Linked DNA regions of Homo sapiens. The protein of the gene in region 1 interacts with the protein of each later gene in a pairwise test. Each region holds a gene or a part of one and is shown on either strand. Other genes may lie near its edges.

The links.
Region 2: the proteins of WWP1 (region 1) and PYGM interact in a two-hybrid assay, tested with the Homo sapiens proteins (one large-scale study listed by BioGRID and IntAct).
Region 3: the proteins of WWP1 (region 1) and DIDO1 interact in a two-hybrid assay, tested with the Homo sapiens proteins (one large-scale study listed by BioGRID and IntAct).
Region 4: the proteins of WWP1 (region 1) and LZTR1 interact in a two-hybrid assay, tested with the Homo sapiens proteins (one large-scale study listed by BioGRID and IntAct).

What each region holds. Positions count from the first base shown.
Region 1 is NC_000008.11:86,407,365-86,412,765, reverse strand, and holds part of WWP1 (NEDD4-like E3 ubiquitin-protein ligase WWP1), read right to left. Parts: intron 1,229-5,401; coding exon 892-1,228; intron 1-891. UniProt on the Homo sapiens protein: E3 ubiquitin-protein ligase which accepts ubiquitin from an E2 ubiquitin-conjugating enzyme in the form of a thioester and then directly transfers the ubiquitin to targeted substrates.
Region 2 is NC_000011.10:64,752,863-64,756,974, forward strand, and holds part of PYGM (glycogen phosphorylase, muscle form), read right to left. Parts: intron 2,697-4,112; coding exon 2,585-2,696; intron 2,494-2,584; coding exon 2,411-2,493; intron 1,975-2,410; coding exon 1,831-1,974; intron 1,484-1,830; coding exon 1,391-1,483; intron 1,164-1,390; coding exon 1,017-1,163; intron 821-1,016; coding exon 657-820; intron 326-656; coding exon 211-325; intron 1-210. UniProt on the Homo sapiens protein: Allosteric enzyme that catalyzes the rate-limiting step in glycogen catabolism, the phosphorolytic cleavage of glycogen to produce glucose-1-phosphate, and plays a central role in maintaining cellular and organismal glucose homeostasis.
Region 3 is NC_000020.11:62,908,894-62,913,005, forward strand, and holds part of DIDO1 (death-inducer obliterator 1), read right to left. Parts: intron 2,722-4,112; 5' UTR 2,720-2,721; coding exon 1,881-2,719; intron 1,128-1,880; coding exon 806-1,127; intron 1-805. UniProt on the Homo sapiens protein: Putative transcription factor, weakly pro-apoptotic when overexpressed. Tumor suppressor. Required for early embryonic stem cell development.
Region 4 is NC_000022.11:20,995,797-20,999,908, reverse strand, and holds the end of LZTR1 (leucine-zipper-like transcriptional regulator 1), read right to left. Parts: coding exon 4,037-4,112; intron 3,947-4,036; coding exon 3,797-3,946; intron 3,214-3,796; coding exon 3,108-3,213; intron 3,024-3,107; coding exon 2,943-3,023; intron 2,678-2,942; coding exon 2,561-2,677; 3' UTR 877-2,560; downstream 1-876. Other genes in the region: THAP7 (THAP domain-containing protein 7), read left to right, coding at 1-29. UniProt on the Homo sapiens protein: Substrate-specific adapter of a BCR (BTB-CUL3-RBX1) E3 ubiquitin-protein ligase complex that mediates ubiquitination of Ras (K-Ras/KRAS, N-Ras/NRAS and H-Ras/HRAS).

The sequences.
Region 1 (5,401 bases):
AGTGGACAACATCAGACGAGCCAGTAAAGGGCACTGAGAAAAAAAAAAACAATTCCAAAAAAAAAACCAACGTACACTAACATAGTGACTGAGGTAACAAAATGAAGACAATAGTGTAGAGACATCTAGAAGTGCAGTTTCAATAGCTACAACAGTTGACATTCTGATCACTGTAAACTGTGTTGGAAAGCACGTGTCCATATATACTTTCTGACTGTACTGTATATACTGTACACGTTTACAACTGTGAATCACTAAATAAGCTTCTTGAAGGCAGAGACAATTAATCATTAATTAATATTAGTATTATCAGTGCCAAAGGTCAAAGAAATTACCGAATGGAATACACATATAGAATACTCTTTAAAGAAAATCATGGGAAGTTGAGTAATTATAATGAGAAACTTAAAAGAGATTAAGAATTACTAACCAGCAATGAAAAACTGCATTTTTAATAGAGCCAATCAGCAAGGTTTGTGACTCCCCAGCACTCAATATTAGCTGAGGAAAAGAAGAGCTATTTGCTCTCCAGTATGAGGTCTGGAAAACAGATCACCAAGGATGCCAGAGAACTGAGGATATTATATGGAGTATCATGGTCACTCTTACGAAAAGTAGAAATAAACCAAGAATCAAATTAAGAGGGTCTTGCTAATTAACATCAGGTTTTTTCTTTTCCCTTCGTACTACATATATGTCAACCAGATGAGCAATTGTTCTTAGTTTCAAAAAGTACTTGTTTTGTAGCAAGTAAATAAATAGTATGATTCAGATCCCAACTTAGATTTCAAAGTTCTGAACAATGAAAACATTTTATGCACACATTCAATAATCGTATGTTAACAGAGTTGCTACTTAAATGCAAGTCAGACATTAAAAAGCTTAACATACCCTGATGGCAAGGTTTCTGTGTTGGCATTCCCAGACTGCTGCCGTACAGGATCCATACACCCATCTGGCTGTCTTGATTTGGCTGCTTCAAAAGCAGAACTACTTCTAGAATTAGAGGTGTCAGGCTCTAATATACTTCTAGCTTCAGATTCCAATTCTGCACTGGTAGAAGGAATACATTCATTGTTTTCTGAGGAAGTCAGTATTTCTTGAACTGGAGGATCTTCAACAGTAGTACTAGTGCAATTTGGAGACAAGGCATTTTCTTCAGACACTACTGGAGTACCCGTGACAGACGCATTATCAGTTGGTGCAAATGAGGATGATTCTCCATTAACTGAGAAGGGAAAATTAATAAAATCATCTATCAAGTAATGATAAAGCAATCAATTACCTAATCAATTGACTACACTTATTCAGAGCCTAATCCAGACTAAGCAACTACAATCCATTCTCCAAACAGCAGACAAAGTAATATTTTCAAAATATGTAACATAAAATAAAATGGAGATTTTATTTTTGTTGCTCAAAATTTCAGGGATGAATATGTAAATGATAAAAATTTAAGTATGTATAATAATAACAACCTTAAGGAGAGAGGAACCAGCATTAAGATAACCAGTGTTTTCCCTCCAAATCATCAATTCTGAGAGGAAGTCTGTATGGGCCATCTAAACTCTGAAAAATGATCCCTTTCAATCGCCCTTCCCTTGTGTAAGTGGTAGCTAACATCAAACGAACTGTTTTGCCAATAGTAGGAACTGTATGATGGCATCAGTTCTTAAGATAGTACTATAGGGGTTGCAAGAACCCATTCTACACTTTTTCAAGAAATAACCCAGTACTGCAATCCAGTGACACAGTTTTCCTAATTTTCATTTTAAGTGTGATTGATCTAGTTCGACTACGTGTCACTATAAAAATGAGTCAAATTAAAACTGTAAGGGTGAATAGATTACAGAACAAAACCTACTGGAAGACCATATATCAAAGTTCTAATGGAAATGGCAGAGGGAGACATAATCACAAATTTTAGGAGAATTAATGACAAAAAGAAAACACTCAGATTAAATGCTACTGGACATGGCCAAAGAAGTACCTAAAGATGTAAGAAAGAATGGTAACAAAAGAGCTTAGAATTCATTCCAGATACAGAAAAAAAAAAAAAAAGTAAGTAGAAGAAAATGAATTTTGGTCAAAAGACCCAAAAAAAAGATCAGAATTTCCTAATGCACCTGATAAGACTCCAGAACTTACTGAAAATATAGTATCTAAGTCCTCATCCTAGACTTACTGAATCTCTAGGGGAAATCTCTAGGGAAGAACCTGGGGATCTGCATTTTTAACAAATGCATATGATTTTTTTACTCAGGAAAGCTGGAGAAACCATGAAATATACCTTTCCAAGTGTTATAAAGAAAACATGTTTAATATAAATAACATTAGAAATACCACGTACAATTTCATATCAATGAGTTTGAAATTAGCTAAACTAACTCAAGGGAAAGAAAAAAAGACAAATCAGAGCAGCAATGGAAAAGGTGATGAAAGTTCTAATATCATCCCTCCTAAAGGCTCCAGGCTCAGAAAGGTTTTTGAGAAAATTCTATGAAGCCTTTATTGGATAGATCATTCTTATGTTATTTAAGGTGTTATAACACATTAGGGGAGAAAAAGTGAAAAGGAGTGTCCTAACTTATTCTGGGAAGGTAATGTAAACTTTCAAAGCTGAAACTGAACAACAACAGAACAAGAAGACTATAGACTAACATCATGTATAAATTCAAGGATGATTTGATATTAGGAAACTACATTAGAAAATCTACTGTTAGCAGATTAAAGGATAAACGTCATATGATTATTTTCAAAACAAACCAAAAGCATTCAAGAAAATCTTGGTAAAATGCCTGATAAGAAGAATCATGAAAAATTAAGAAGTAATCTAGATTATCTATCACAAACCTACAGTCATTAATATACAATAATTGTAAAACATTTTAAGAACTTTTTTTTTTGAGAAGGTGTCTCGCTCTGTGGCCCAGACTGGAGTGCAGTGGCACAATCACAGCTCACTGCAACCTCCACCTCCCGGGTTCAAACGGTTCTCCTTCCTCAGCCCCCCAGTAGCCGGGATTACAGGCACCCGCCACCACGCCTGGTTAGTTTTCCTATTTTTTGGTAGAGATGGGCTTTCACCTTGTTGGCCAGGCCAGTCTTGAACTCCTGACCTCAAATGATCCACCCAACTTGGCCTCCCAAAGTTCTGGGATTACAGGCATGAGCCACTGTGCCCAGCCTATTGTAAGAACTTCTATTAAGATCAAGAATAAAGTAAAATCAGGGCTGGGCACAGTGGCTCACGCCTGTAATCCCAGCACTTTGGGAGGCCGAGGCGGGTGGATCACGAGGTCAGGAGTTTGAGACCACCCTGACCAACACGGTGAAACCCTGTCTCTACCAAAAAATAGGAAAATTAGCTGGGTGTGGTGGTTGTGTGCCTGTAATCCCAGCTACTCAGGAGGCTGAGGCAGAAGTATTGCTTGAATCCGGGAGGTAGAGGTTGCAGTGAGCCAGGATCACGCCACTGTACTCCAACCTGGGCAAAAGAGCAAGACTCCGTCTGAAGAAAAAAAAAAAAAAAAAAAAAAGAAAGAAAAAGAAAAAGAATAAATTAAAATCAGCAACAAAACAAGGAAGATCACAATTACCAAGCCAATTCAGTATTGATTATATTTGACAATCCATTAAGAAAAGTCATAACAACATTGGAAAGAATATGGTAAAACTCATTTGTAGTGAAAATGACAAATAGATTATTTATTTAGAATACACAAGAAAATTTTTTTAAAAACCCCATTAGAACCAATTAATTGGAGCTAAAACATTTCAGCAAAATGAACAGACACAAGATCAACAACAAGATTACTTCAAGACCTATCCGAAGAAAAAAAATTTTTTTTTTTTTGAGACAGAGTCTTGCTCTGTCACCCAGGTTGGAGTGCAGTAGCGCGATCTCAGCTCACTGAAACCTCAGCACCCCAGGTTCAAGCAATTCTCCTGCCCCAGCCTCCCAAGTAGCAGGGATTATAGGCATGCGTCACCACACCCGGCTAAATTTTTTTGCATTTTTAGGATTTCATTATGTTGCCCAGGCTGGACTCGAACTCCTGACCTCAAGTGATTCCCCAGCCTGGGCCTCCCAAAATGCTGGGATTACAGGCGTAAGCCACTGCACAACCAGCGTGAAGAAAACACTTTAAAAAACATTACTAAAAAGAATGAATACAGACATAAAATATCTCTCAATGGGAAGATTCAGTATTGTTAAAATAATAATAAACAATAAACAACTCTCCTTGAAATGCAAATGTTGGTGAGATGCAAAGCACTAGGAATTCTCATTCACTGCAGTGGGAATGCAGGAGTACAGCCACTTTGGAAGACAGTTTGGCCGTTTGTTACAAAAGTAAACATACTTTAAAAATACAACCCACCAGTCTCACTCCTCAATCCAACTGAATTGAAGACTTATATTCACGTAAGAGCCTGCACACAAATGTATATAGCAATGTTTTTCACAATTGTAAAAAACTGAAGTAACCAAGGAGCCTTTATAATAAGTGAGTATTTAGTGATAAAAAGAAATGAGAAGTCAAGCCACAAAAAACATGGAGAAACCTTAAATGCACCTTGCTAAGTGAAAGAAGCCAATCTGAAAAGGCTACCCACACTGTAGGACTCCAACTATGTAGCATCCTGGAAAGGACAAAACTATAGAGCCAGTATTTAAAAACAGCTGTTGCAAAGGGTTTGAGGGATAAACAAATGAAACAAATTTTAGAGTAGTAAAACTATTCTGTATGATACTGTAATGGTGTGTACATGACGATATGCATTTCTCAAACCCACAGAACCAGTACAATACAAAGAAGGAACATTAGTTAATATAAGGTAATGTAAACTATGGACTTTAGTTAATAACAATGTATTATTAATGGTTCATTAATTGTAACAAACATCACAGTAATGCAAAATGTTAGTAATACAAAAACTCTGAGTGGGATGGGAGGACATATGGGAACTCTCTACAATCTCCCCAGTTTTTCTGTAAATCTGAAACTGTTCTAAAATATAAAGTCTATTAATTTAAAAAAAACTCTTAGAAACAAATTATTTCTATTCAATAATTCAACAAATGTTGGTTCTTCAATACTGCTCAGAACCGCATTAAGATGCCACAATAATATTTGACTGGAGAGATTACTGTTCATATATATCAATGGTTCTTGACTAGGGAAGATTCTGCTCTCCCCACCGCCAAAGACATTTAGTAATGTCTGTAAATGCATTTGGTCATCACAACTAGGAGAAGGTAAGATATTACTGGCACCTAGTGGATACAGATCAGGAATACTGCTAAACATTCTATTAATATAATGCACAGGACAGCCCCCTACAACAAAGAATTACCTGGGCCAATATGTCAACAGTGCTGAAATTGAGAAACTCT
Region 2 (4,112 bases), on another chromosome or scaffold:
GCCAGGGCCTCCATTAGCACACAGAGCACCCTCATGCAATTAAGATGGTGTCCCTCCTCCAGGTGGATGCGAGGCTTGGGGAACACAGTGCAGGAGGGATTTCAGCCTTCAGCTGGGAGCCCTGATGCAGTGAACCACCTACACGACCATACCCAGCTGATCCCTGCAGGGACCCATGTTGACTCTACTGGCCCTACGGTGGCCTCTCACCTCAGCAATGACCTCTGCCAGCCCGGGGTTACACAGAACCAGCCAGCGCCGAGGGGTGATGCCGTTGGTCTTATTCTGGAACTTATGAGGCTCCAGCTCATAGAAGTCTTTGAAGCTGCAGGATGAGGTTGGACGAGGGTCACCACTCACCCCTGTACAATGAAGGCCTCTGCCCTGGGGCCCCTACCCTGGTGTCTTGCTGAAAGGGGCCTGGGGCAGGGAATGCAGACCTGGGGAAGGTTGGGGGTGCTGTGTGTAAGAGGAGGTCATCTCAGGACAGGGCGGCACTGGAAGGGGCTGCTGTGCTTGTAAGAATGACGCCACCTGTGAAAGGCGCCAGGGCCCAGAGACCAGAGAGTGGTCGGTGAAGGGCGGGGCTTCTGTGTGACAGAGGCGTGGAGTGGGTGGGGCCTAGAGAGGGGCGGGATCTGGAAAGCGGGGCTCACATGGTCTTCTTGAGGATCTCGGAGTGGATGCGCGCCACGCCGTTGACGGCGTGCGACCCCGCGATGCACAGGTGTGCCATGTTGATGCGCTTCACTGCGCCCTCCTCCACCAGCGACATGCGCCGCAGCCGGTCTACGTCCCCTGGGAATGCGGCCGCCACCCGCTGTGCCCAGAGAGCCCAGAGCTAGAACCAGACCCAGGAACCCCCATCCCCAGTCCCCAGCCCCACACCCCCAGAGCTCTGCCCAGTGCCCCCACTGCCCCAGAGTCTCAGGGCCCTGGCTGGACGCCCCGACTCCCAGGCCCAGACTGGGTGTCCCCCCTCACCCCCACACCATCCCCCAAGCCTCCGGACTCACGTTGAGGAAGCGCTGGTTGATCTCGTAGATGATCTGGAGGTGCCGCGGCAGCAGCGTCTCCAAGAGGTGCACCGGCCAGCGCTCCAGGGCCTCGGGCAGCACCGTGTGGTTGGTGTAGGCACAGGTCCTCACTGTCACATCCCACGCCTGGCACACGGGGTGGGCAGTCAGGATGCTGACCTCAGCCCAGTGGGTCTCCTCACACACTACGCATCCCAGTGGGCCCCCCCACTGCAGTGCCAGGTTCCAGGACGGTCCCTCTGGCCTCAGGCTCTGATCCCTTCACTCCATTCATATCCTCCCACGCTCCCAAACTGGGAAGGGAACCCCGAGGCAGAGAGCATCAGATGGGGCAGAGGGGCCCTGAAGCCCACCTTGTCCCAGTCCATCCGTTCCAGGTCCACCAGGATCCTCATCAGCTCGGGGATGGCCAGGGAGGGGTGGGTGTCATTGAGCTGGATGGCCACCTGGGGTAGGGGGAGGGGTCAGTCTGGGCTCCAAACCACATTCCATGCTATGGTCACTGCCCTATGCCATTTGGAGGCCCCCAGAGAGCCCAGCACGGTTCTGTGACTGGGCTGTGGGCAGAGGCAGGCCGGTGCTCATGGGGGTGGGAGGAATGGGGGGAGTGGGGCGGGAGGAGGAGGGAAGCCCAGGTTCTGAGCCTGTGGATTGTGAATCCTGAACAACTGACCCTCCCACACTCCCAGTCTCCACTCCCTTATCTATTACATGGGGCAGGCAGGCCGAGGCTGGAGGGAGAGGCCTAGCACACACTGTCCGGTCACAGAGTCGCCCTCCACACGCATGGTACCTTATCTGGGAAGGCATCGAAGTTCGTGCGCACGGGATCACGGCAGCCGAACTTGGAAGACTTGAAGCGACGGATGATGTCCTGGAGGGTGGCAGCCACCACGAAATACTCCTGCTTCAGCCGCAGCTCCTTCCCTTCGAAGAACTGGGGACAGCATGAGGCAGCGTGAGTCAGGGCGGTGGGGGCATGGCCTAAAGCTGCGGTGGGTGTGGCCAGGAGGGACTCCCACCCATACCGGGACCCCTGAGCCCTGAGCCGGCCCCCTCTCTGGGACCCAGGGGCCTTTCCTCCACCAAGAACTAGTGGCGAGAGACAGTGTCAGGAAGAGGGGTACAAGAACCGAGTGTGTTGTGGGTGTCGCCAGGGAACAGCCCCTCCAAAGTGCCCTTCGCTAACCCAGTTTCCTCAGGACTCAGGTGTCCTTGCACTCAAAAGACTTGAGGTGGGGGCACAGGATGCACAAGGCCAGCAATATGCCCTGGGTGTGACTAGGGCACCAGCAAGTGTCCTTCCCCAGCTCTCCCTGACCCCTGCTGCCAAGGACTCAGGCTTCCAGCCCCCAGCCCAGGGGGTGACGCACATTATCATTGGGGTACAGGACACGAGAGATGTTCTCCGCCAGGTTTCGGTCCAACACAGCCTGGATGTAGCCACCGACATTGACTGAGGGACAAAAGTGGGGACAGGGTAAGGCCTGCGCTGGGCGTGGCCGGCGGGCAAGCTGGGGTTGCTGGCTACCAGTGGATGAACTCACAGTCCTTGAGGTTGAAGTCATTGGGAGCCTTGGCAGACCAGAGGCGCATGGTGTTGACAACATTGTTGCGATAGCCAGGCACGGGCGTATCGTAGGGCATGGCCAGTACCACCTGCGGGGGGCAATCCTGTCAGGAGCTGGCCAGCCCTGGCAATTGCCTCCCTCCCCTCAGGGCTGGGACTCAAGGCTTTATCCCTGCACTCTGCAGACCCAGGCTCTTGTCCTTGTCTAGCATCGATGAGCTGGGTAACCATGAGCAAACCCCATAGTCTCTCTGGACCGCATCTAGAGCAAAGACACCCTCAACACCTCCCCGACACCCATAAGCCCTGCCTGGGCAGACGGTGGTGAGGAAAATGGAAGGAGGCAGGTGATAAGCCCGGAACCCAGGAGGGGCTCTGTTGGCGACCACTCTGCAGCAATGGGGGCTGGGCTGGCCAGCCTGGCCTGAGCAAAAGCTAGAGGACACTGTGGACTCATGAGAGGGCTGGGGGAACCCAGGGCCAGGCTGAAGGGGTCACAGAGGTCAAGTCCATCCAAAGGTCTCATCTCTGGTTGACCACAGGGCTAATTCACGGTGACTAATTCTGCCCCGCCTTCCATAACTAGCAAACATCAATAATTGTCTGCTACCACGGTGCCAGGGGTACATTCACTCCTCTAAGCGAGCCCTTTTAAGGGGCATCGCCCTCCCTCCCCACATTCAGTCACCCTGATTGGTGCAGGGTGGGAGTTGACACAGAGAGAGGGAAGGGACCCATCCCCGAGCACACAGCCAGGCTGGCAGCACCAGAGGGAGCCAGGTCTCCTGCCTTCCAGCCACAGCCACTTGTGCCAGTTGCCACGTGCACCTGGCATGGACTGCCAGCAGCCCCCACTGCATCTTAACCTGGAGGACAACAAACAAATGCTCAGTTCTGAAAGCCTAGTGGTTTATCTGCAGCCCATCTGGGGGCTGATGACCTGAAGCTTCAGCAGGAAGATTGCCTGAACTGGGATTTGTTTTTTGTTTGTTTGTTTTTGAGATGGGACCTCACTCTGTTACCCAGGCTGGAGTGCAGTGGCACTATCTTGGCTCACTGTAACCTCCACCTCCTGGATTCAAGCGATTCTCTGGCTTCAGCCTCCTGAGTGGCTGGGATTACAGGCACGTGCCACCATGCCCGGCTAATGTTTTTGTGTTTTTAGTAGAGACTGGGTTTCACCATATTGGTCAGGCTAGTCTTGAACTCCTGACCTCAGGTGATCCACCTGCCTTGGCCTCCCAAAGTGCTGAGATTACAGGTGTAAGTCACCACGCCCGGCCTAAACTGGGATTTGTACACCTGGTTTGGTTTTAAGGTTTTCAGTTTTTGGTCTTTTTGCTTTTTGAAACAGTCTCACTCTGTCACACAGGCTGGCTGGAGTGCAGTTGTACAATCATAGCTCACTGCAGCCTTTAAATCCTGGACTCAAGTGATCCTCCCACTGAAGCCTCAGAGTAGCTGGGACTACAGGCATGCACCAGCACCCTGGCTAATTTTTTAAA
Region 3 (4,112 bases), on another chromosome or scaffold:
GACATAAAGCCAATGACTTTTCTCATGAATTCCCATCTCCATTCATCTCTGAATGCCCAGATGTGGCCTCTGATAGCAGCGCAGCATGAGCCTTCAGCCCCTCCTGCCTCCAAGGGCACGCTCCCAGGTGCACGGCCCAGCCTTCGGACATCCTCACCTTGCAGCTAATGCAGTGCAAGAGTGTGAAGGCAGAGATGCTTCTAGACACAGCAATTTCCAATACCTGCCAGAGGACAGGCAGCTGGGTGGGGACAGGCCCGGGACCCTGGAGGGACCAGAGTGAAAACACGCCAAGTCACACCTGCCCTGTGGGGACTGGAATGGAGACTGCAAACACAAGACAGCAGCAGAAGCTGACAGCATGTGGGAAATGTCATAAACATCAGGGGGAGAGAATTAAGTGTCAACACAGCTGCAAGACAGAGAAACCACTCTCAACACAAGCACCCCGAGGAGCCAGCACCAGAACCACGAGGCAGCTGGAGACAGCAGGTGACACAGGAGCACCGCCACTCCCATCGTTCAGAAACAATTCCTTTCTGCTAATGCATACAAAGCATGTAAGCAACACCCAAATCCTCAAAGATGGGCTGATTTCAACAATTAAGTCATTAATAGTAGAGGAGGTAGACAGGGTAAGAATAAAAATAGAAAGGCCTCACCCAGGTGGAGTGAGGCAGGAACCCGGGAGAGGCACCGCCCCACATGGGTGCAGCACCCGTCCTGGGAGGAATTTCTATCTAGAGCGAGACTGAAACCAGTGAGGCCGACTGCTGAATGCTCGTCTCAGCGGACAAACACTTACAGGCTGGAAGATCTTGAGTTTCTTCTTGCCACTTGGATTTGCAGCTTTCTCAATTCTACCCTTTATCCCTTGGTCTTCGCTAGACTTCTGCTCTATTGTTCCTATACTTGTACAATCGGTGCCATCAGCATCTCCAGGTCTCCATTTAGCTTCCTGCTGATCTGCCGTTTCTGAATGAGTCTCATCCTGCACTTGCAGAATGGTGCAGTTTGGGCAGATATAGTCTTCCCCATTCCTTTCCAAAAGCCTCCCTCGAGCCTCAGAAATGCCCACACAATCGCCATGAAACCATTCTTCACAGCGGTCACAGCAAATCATAAACCTGAAATTATAAAATAACGGTATTAGCAATGGGACGTGAGTGACAAGCACTTTTCAACACATTAATAAGACAATTGGTTTTAACTTCATGAAAAAATGCAAATATACAGAAAAGTAGAGATTAAGAACGTCCTCATGCCTTTCCTTTGATTTTAACATTCAACCAAATTTACTTCACCGTTTTTTAAGAGTAGCGCATTTTAGGAGCAAACTCTAAGGCATTCCACCACAGATACCTCAGCAAGTCTCCCCCCAAAACTGCGACAATGCCTTTATCCCAGCGCCAAGCCAACAGGCTGCCTATCACCGTCTGACACCCAGTCCTAGCAGAGATCTTTTGAGCTGCCCCAATGTTTGCACTAGGACACTTGCGGTCTGCACATGCCCCTCTGCTATGTCTCCCAAGGGGCAGTCTAGAGGAGCAGTCTCAGACAGACCCCGGAGTGACGGACACATTCTCCTCCATGCCGTCTACACAGAGCCACTGGCTGCACGTGGCTCACGTGACTGGGGTGGGGCGCTATTCACCTCCTCACTTGACTGGAAACAGCCATGTGTGGCCAGTGGCTACCAGAGTGGAGAGGTGGCTCTAGGAAGTCCTTAGCCACTCTTATGTGTTTCTTTTTTGACAACTTGTTCATCTTTTCCAACAAATCGCTCATCCAGCCCAGCTTTGTAACCCTTTAAAATGAAAACAAATGGAAAATTCTGTTTGCAACCCTGGGATTTCTGTGGGTGCCCACACATGACCCACCTGTTGTTGTGAGGCTGGCGGCAAATGCAATACAGGGCGTTGGGGTCGTAACCCTCACATTCAGGCTTCGGTCGGCCCAAGTCTCCAGGCTCCTCATCTTTGATGTCCTGAGCCGCCTTTCCCTCCAACTTACTCTCTCTGTCATCTTTCCCAGCCTGGGACACAACCCCCTGATCGTTCTCGGGCTCCTGCTTACTGGGCAGGACGCCCTCCACAGTGTCACTGGCCTCGGAGCCCACAGTCTCGGCGGGACCCTCCTCCCGGCGCTTCTTCCGCAGGCGACTCTGGATCCCTTTCAGGGGCCTCTCAGTGGGCTCCTGTTCCCGCTTCCTGCGAAGGCGATTCTGAAGCTCTTTCAAGGTCAGGCCATCGCTGTCACTATCGGAGGTGTCATCGTGGTCATCCCCTCCTTTCACCTTTTCAGAAGAGGCTGGTCGTTCCTTCACAGCTGTGGAAGCAGACTGGGGGCCGCTTCTGGTCTCAGAAGCGCTTTCCACGCTGCCCTCGGAGGCTGTCTCGGCGTCTGTGGCGGGGCAGGACGTGGGCTCACCAGAATCCTCCAGGGAGACAGGCATGCTCCTCCTGCCGCGGCGCCGCGCAATGGTCAGGAACTGCTCCACGCGCTCAGTGCGCTTGGGCTGCCTCCCACTGCGCCGCAGGGACAGGCCCAGCTGCTGCTGTGGGGGTGGCGGCTCCAGTGGGTCAGCCTCCGCGTCCCCTGCGCCCTCTCGCTTGGCGATAGTGGTCCTTCGAAAACCCCATGTTTTCCTGAACTCTTTGCTGGTGGGTTTGATGGCCTTAGGTGCCTCCTCATTGCTCGGGTCGCCTTTGTCGTCCATACCTAGCGGTAAAGTGTAAGCACATAGTGACCAACTGACCACAGAACAAAAGGTGACATTGCCGCCAAACACGCGCAGCAGGGGCCACCTCCCTACAAACAGTGGAGCTCTACATAAAGCAAGTCCTTCTGACCAGTGTTTCCTAATGTGTGCTATGTGAGATGATTCAAGATGATTTGTAAAGATAATTTTAATATAGTTAAACAACTAACGTTTAGACAAAAATACAGCTAACAAATCAAATGTACAATTTCATCATTTAACTGCTCAGGACAAGGCTTCACAAGCCAGACAGTAGGGACAAATAGGAAATATTGGACAGTATAGCAGGGTAAGGATGTGAGTAAGGACGTGAGCAAGGACGCGAGCAGCTCGGAGGTGGCACGAGCTCCCCAGCACCTCCGCAGGCAGATGGGCTGCTCTGACCACAAGCACAGTGAACAAGACGCTGTGCCAGTTTGGGTGTGGCCTGCAAAGGGACCCAAGTCTGTTCTGGACTTTTGCAAGTATGGGCTGGCCACCACCATGCTGAAAAGAGGATATGAAGAAGCTGAGTCCCGACTTTCAGCTCCCCAACCAGGGGCTGGGGCCAGGAAGGATGCTATCACTATCTGGGACCCTCCATACCAGCCCTGCTGCCAAGTGAATGACCCTCACGGGCACAATGTGAGAGAACTGCCTAACTCCTGACCCAACAGATTGTGTGGTATGAAATAAACCTTGTTTTAGTCTACTGAGCTTTGGAGATATTGTTAGCAGCAAGACAACTGGGACACTTAGAAAACATGGTCAAGGCGATCACTTTAAGGTATATTTCTTTTTTTTTTTTTTTGAGACGGAGTCTTGCTCTGTCCCCAGGCTGGAGTTAGCCACTGTGCCAGGCCAGTATATTTTTTTTTCTGTATTATTTTTCACTTTCATTCTAATACATTACTAAAGAATCTTATTTATGAAACTTTTACTCTTGTTGAAATGACAAAAATCTGAAAAAGACAGTAGATACTTTGAGAATTCTTTTCCAAGCTGTCCAAGCTTTAATTACATTTCAATGCTAATGATGACTCTGATTTTATGCCATGTTCCATCCTGGGGGAAGGACTGGCATAAAATGAAAGCCTTAAAAAATATACAAAATGGGGCCGGGCCTGGTGGCTCAAGCCCATAATCCCAGCACTTCGGGAGGCCGAGGCAGGCAGACCACTTGAGGTTAGGAGTTCGAGACCAGCCTGGCCAACATGGTGAAACCCCATCTCTATTAAAAATACAAAAATTAGCTGGGCATGGTGGCAGGCGCCTGTAATCCCAGATACTTGGGAGGCTGAGGCAGGAGAATTGCTTGAATCCAGGAGGTGGAGGTTGCAGTAAGCCGAGATCGCACCACTGCACTCCAGCC
Region 4 (4,112 bases), on another chromosome or scaffold:
CCATGCAGCTGAGCAGCAGCATGGCCTGAGGGGCTGCTGGACTGACCGAGGGGCTGCCCAGCAAGACTGCAGCCTCTTCCTCCCTCAGATCCCACCAGACCCACCAGGTGCCATAATAAAGCGGATTCTAGACGGAGGGCCTGCTGTCTGGCTCAGCTGGGGGCTGGAGCCCCTCTGAGTACTAAGCTTGCTGCCCCAGACAGTGGCTGCAGCTCCTAGAGGGCTCAGTCCAAGCTCTTTGCCAAGGAGAACAGGGAGCCTGGCTCTCACCCCTCAGAGCTACTGGTAGACAGGTGGCAGTCAGCCCTGCTAGCGCAGCTCCGTGCCCCACAGGGTTCTCTGAAGGGGCAGGATGGTGTGAGTAGGGGCCAGGAAGACAGCTCCAGGCGCCCTTTCCATAGGATCTGAAACAGCCCTGACTTAAACCAGCCAGCCCCTTTGAGAACACTTCTAAAACCCAGTCTAGATCCGGTTCTCAAGCAGGAGCATGACAGGCTTCTGTCCACAGGCCCCATCAGCCTGGTGGGTAAGCTGGACAACCCTCTCCCCGCCCCCTTCACTACCATCTCTATTTGAAAAACGGGGATGATGATGACAATCATCAACCTCCTGGGTCATGTCAGCAGGTAGTAAAGCCCCAACAAGCTAGTCCCTGGAAATCTAGGAAGAGGTGGCCAGAACATGGAGACAAGCACTCAGGTCCTGGCCTCAGCATCCTTTTCCTTCAACTCCCAGGAACCTGGAAGGCCTTGCTGCAGCTGCAGTTCTCAAACAGCTCCGTCTTGGGGTGACTCACTGCAAGTATGGCCTCTCCCTGCCGAGGAGCACAAATGAAATTCATTCTAGTCCCAGAAACTGCCACACAATTTCGTAAAATTTGCTTTTTAGGGCCCTTGGCATGTAATTTCATTTATTCATATAAGTCTAGATCAGGGTTCAGTGACAAGGGTCAGCATAGAGCAGGGTTGCAGACTGGTTCAAGGAGGCTTCTGGGTAGGCCCCTCCAGGAGGGATTTGGAGGAGGCTGCCCTGTGGGTGTGGCAGGAGCCACATCTTGTGGAAACTGGGTAGATGGGTGTGTGGCCCCACTCTGAGTGAATGCACCTGGCCCACATGGCTGGGCGCTGCAGCCTGCACTCCACTTCCAGGTGCTGACATATCCTCCCCAGCCATGGTCCTGGGCCTGCTGTGTCCTCACCTCAAGGGCCTCCCGGCTCAGCCTCTGCCCCAGCTCCTGCTCTCTCCTCCCTTGTTCCCAGCTCATCTTGCACTAGGCCACTTCCTAGCCTGCAGGCTGCCTATGGATCTCCTGTTAGCTAAGCAACTTGCCACTCAGGGCCCCCCACACACCTGCATACACCCAAAGGAGAGCAGGTCACTTCCCCAAGGAGCTGTGGCTTCATGGCAGCCACAACAAGAAAGGGGTCCTGGAATCCTGTTCCCAGTAAGGGAGCGCTGGCTCCCAGCACTAGAGTGGATCCACATGGGGCCCTCACTAGGGCAAGAGGGCAGCCCTCCTTCCACAGGAGCCAAGAGCATAGTGCAGGGGCAAGGCAGGGCAGAAGGGGCAGGAGCCCACCCCAGGCCTCCAGGATTCCCCTGGAAGGGGCCAGCCTGGAGGCCTTCACAGCCCTTCCCAATGTGACTGGGTGACCCCAGGTGGAGGCAGGAGTTGACAGCATGGATAGAGACAGGTAAGGCCACTGACCTACATCTGGGGGTCTGCTAAGCCATGGGCTGCTCAAGGGGCTGAAGCCAGCAGTGGTGGCCGGGCCAGCAAGGTGTGTGTGGTGGGTAGCACTGCTGTGGCTTTAATGGAGGCTTGTCTGTGACAGAATACTCAGCAAGGGACACGGGGGACTTTGCTGGCTTCTTCCCGGCCGAGCCCTGACATGCACACAGGTGGACTGGGATCCTTCAGCCCCTGTGAAAACCAGGCCTGGCCCAGCACGACCGACCTGGGAGCTGACCTCAGGGCCCTTCACTCCAAAATTCACCTCAAGTCAGGTGAGACCCATACATCATGGGTCCCCACTCACAAGTTCCAGGTGGGAAGAGGAGCCCCTTACATGGATCTCAGTGAGGGTGGGTGGGACAGGAGCAGCCCAGGCAGATTCGCTGGTGCAGCGCAAGTCTGCTAAGCCTCCTCCCGCATGTTGGAGGAGCCTTGGTGACAGGCCCCAGTGCCTGAGTCCACAACACGCCCAGGCCACAGAAGCCAGGCCAAGCCCCACTGGGTGGGAGGCCCAAAGTCTCTCCCCACTTCTGGGTGGTGAGCCCATCACTGAGCCGTGGCCTCGCATCCACACTACACCAGGAGAGGGTGATGACAGGAGGGGGTCTGCTTCATCATCCGCTCCCTGTGGGACCTGTGTCTTCAGTGAATTAATGAGTTTGGGGCCCCACATCCCCTCAGCTCTCTTTGGAGGCTCTGGGCACCCTGACCCTTGGCCTGGCAGGTGCACCCACTGCCATAGGCATGCGCATAGCCGGTAGTCTTCTCAGTAGGCAGGGCAGGCAGGCACGGCGATTCTTCACAATGGGCAGGCGCCACAGGGCCTCAGATGTCGGCGCCCAGCTCTGCGCACTGCTTGTCTGAGATGTGGGAGGCCAGGGAGTCTATGATGTCCAGCAGCAGCTGCTGGCTCAGCGACCGCAGGGTGGGCAACTTGGAGACCTGTAAGGCAAGCAGGCCGGAAGGAGATGGGACCAGATCCACCTAAGGGCCATGGTGGGCAGTGGAGCCCTGTGGGGCCTACCCTGCTCAGGGCTCAGGCTGGTCCCAAGGATGAAGCAAGGTGCGGCCAGTGATGGGCTGCTCTGCTTCTCTCACCCCCAGGGCCCACCACTGCAGGGGACCACAGAGCCTGGGCACCCTCCCTGCCTGGGCATGGCCACTGCCAAGGGGAAGCGAGTCCTGAAGGGGAGGCCAGAGCCCTGACCTTGGTGAACTGGTGCACAATGATGTGCAGGCAGTGCCGCTTCATGTCCAGTGCCTGCGTTTTGTCAGCTGCCTCCAGGATCTGCAATGGCAGGGACCTTGAGGCGCTGCCCCTTTCACCCACTCAGTGGGAGCTGCAGCCATGTGCACGGGGCTGGGGGGCTACCTGCAGCACGTTCTGCACCGTCACGTTCATCTCCAGGTTCTGCTTGCAGTACGCCTGCAGCCGGTTGTTGTAGAAGCCGTAGTAGTAGGGGGCCGCAAACAAGTAGCTGGGGCCTGGTTAAGGAGCTGACTAAAGGAAGCTGGTCCGCCCGCACCCTCCCAGGGAAGGACAGGGAAGGGCGCAGCTGGAGCCCCAAGCCCCCACGCCAGCATGCTCTCCAAATGGATTCTGAACTACTTAGTGGGTCAAAGGCCCCATTCAGGATCCAAAGAAAACCATGAATCCCCTCCCGAGAAAAATAGTGTCTGTACATCTGTAGCGCTGTTCCATGGCCTTGCAGGCCTAACAGGCATCCTGACCCTCCATGTTCAGACCCCTACTGAAGTGACATAAGGAGTACCTCCATGTCTGTGCTCAACTGTCACACAAAGCAATGACCCACCCCGTCCTCTGGGCAGTTGTGAGGGTCAGGAACCCACTGGTTCCTCCTGGCTGCAAACCCCTCCTTGCCAGCTGCCAACTGCTTCAGAGAGCACCAGGCCCAGCCCCAGGCACCAGCAAACCCTCTGGAGGGAGGCGCTGGGCCCAGATCACCTAGCTGGGGCAGGAGAGCGGGCCTCAAAGCCACCTGAGGTGGGTGCCAGGACCCCTTGGTGGGGACCTGGGAGTTCACTGGGGAGTGAGGATGCAGCGAGTCCTCGGGCGGCATGTTGACCTCGCCGTAGTAGATGTAGCGCAGCATGGACTCGAAGGCCTGCCTGCTGGGCACCATCTCCCCGATGGAGATGTTCACCTGCCCATCTTCGGGCATGAAGGACCGGAACATGGCTTCAAAGTAGCTGCAGACAACGAGCGGTAGGCACCTGGCCGTCAGCAGAACGAAGACACCATCCAGGCCCACCCTCCCCTCCTGTCCAGCCCCCACCCACCTGGAGCGGGCGGCCAGGATAGCCTTGTGGGCTGGCCGTGGGTGCCCGTCAAGCAACAGAGTGATGTCACAGAATT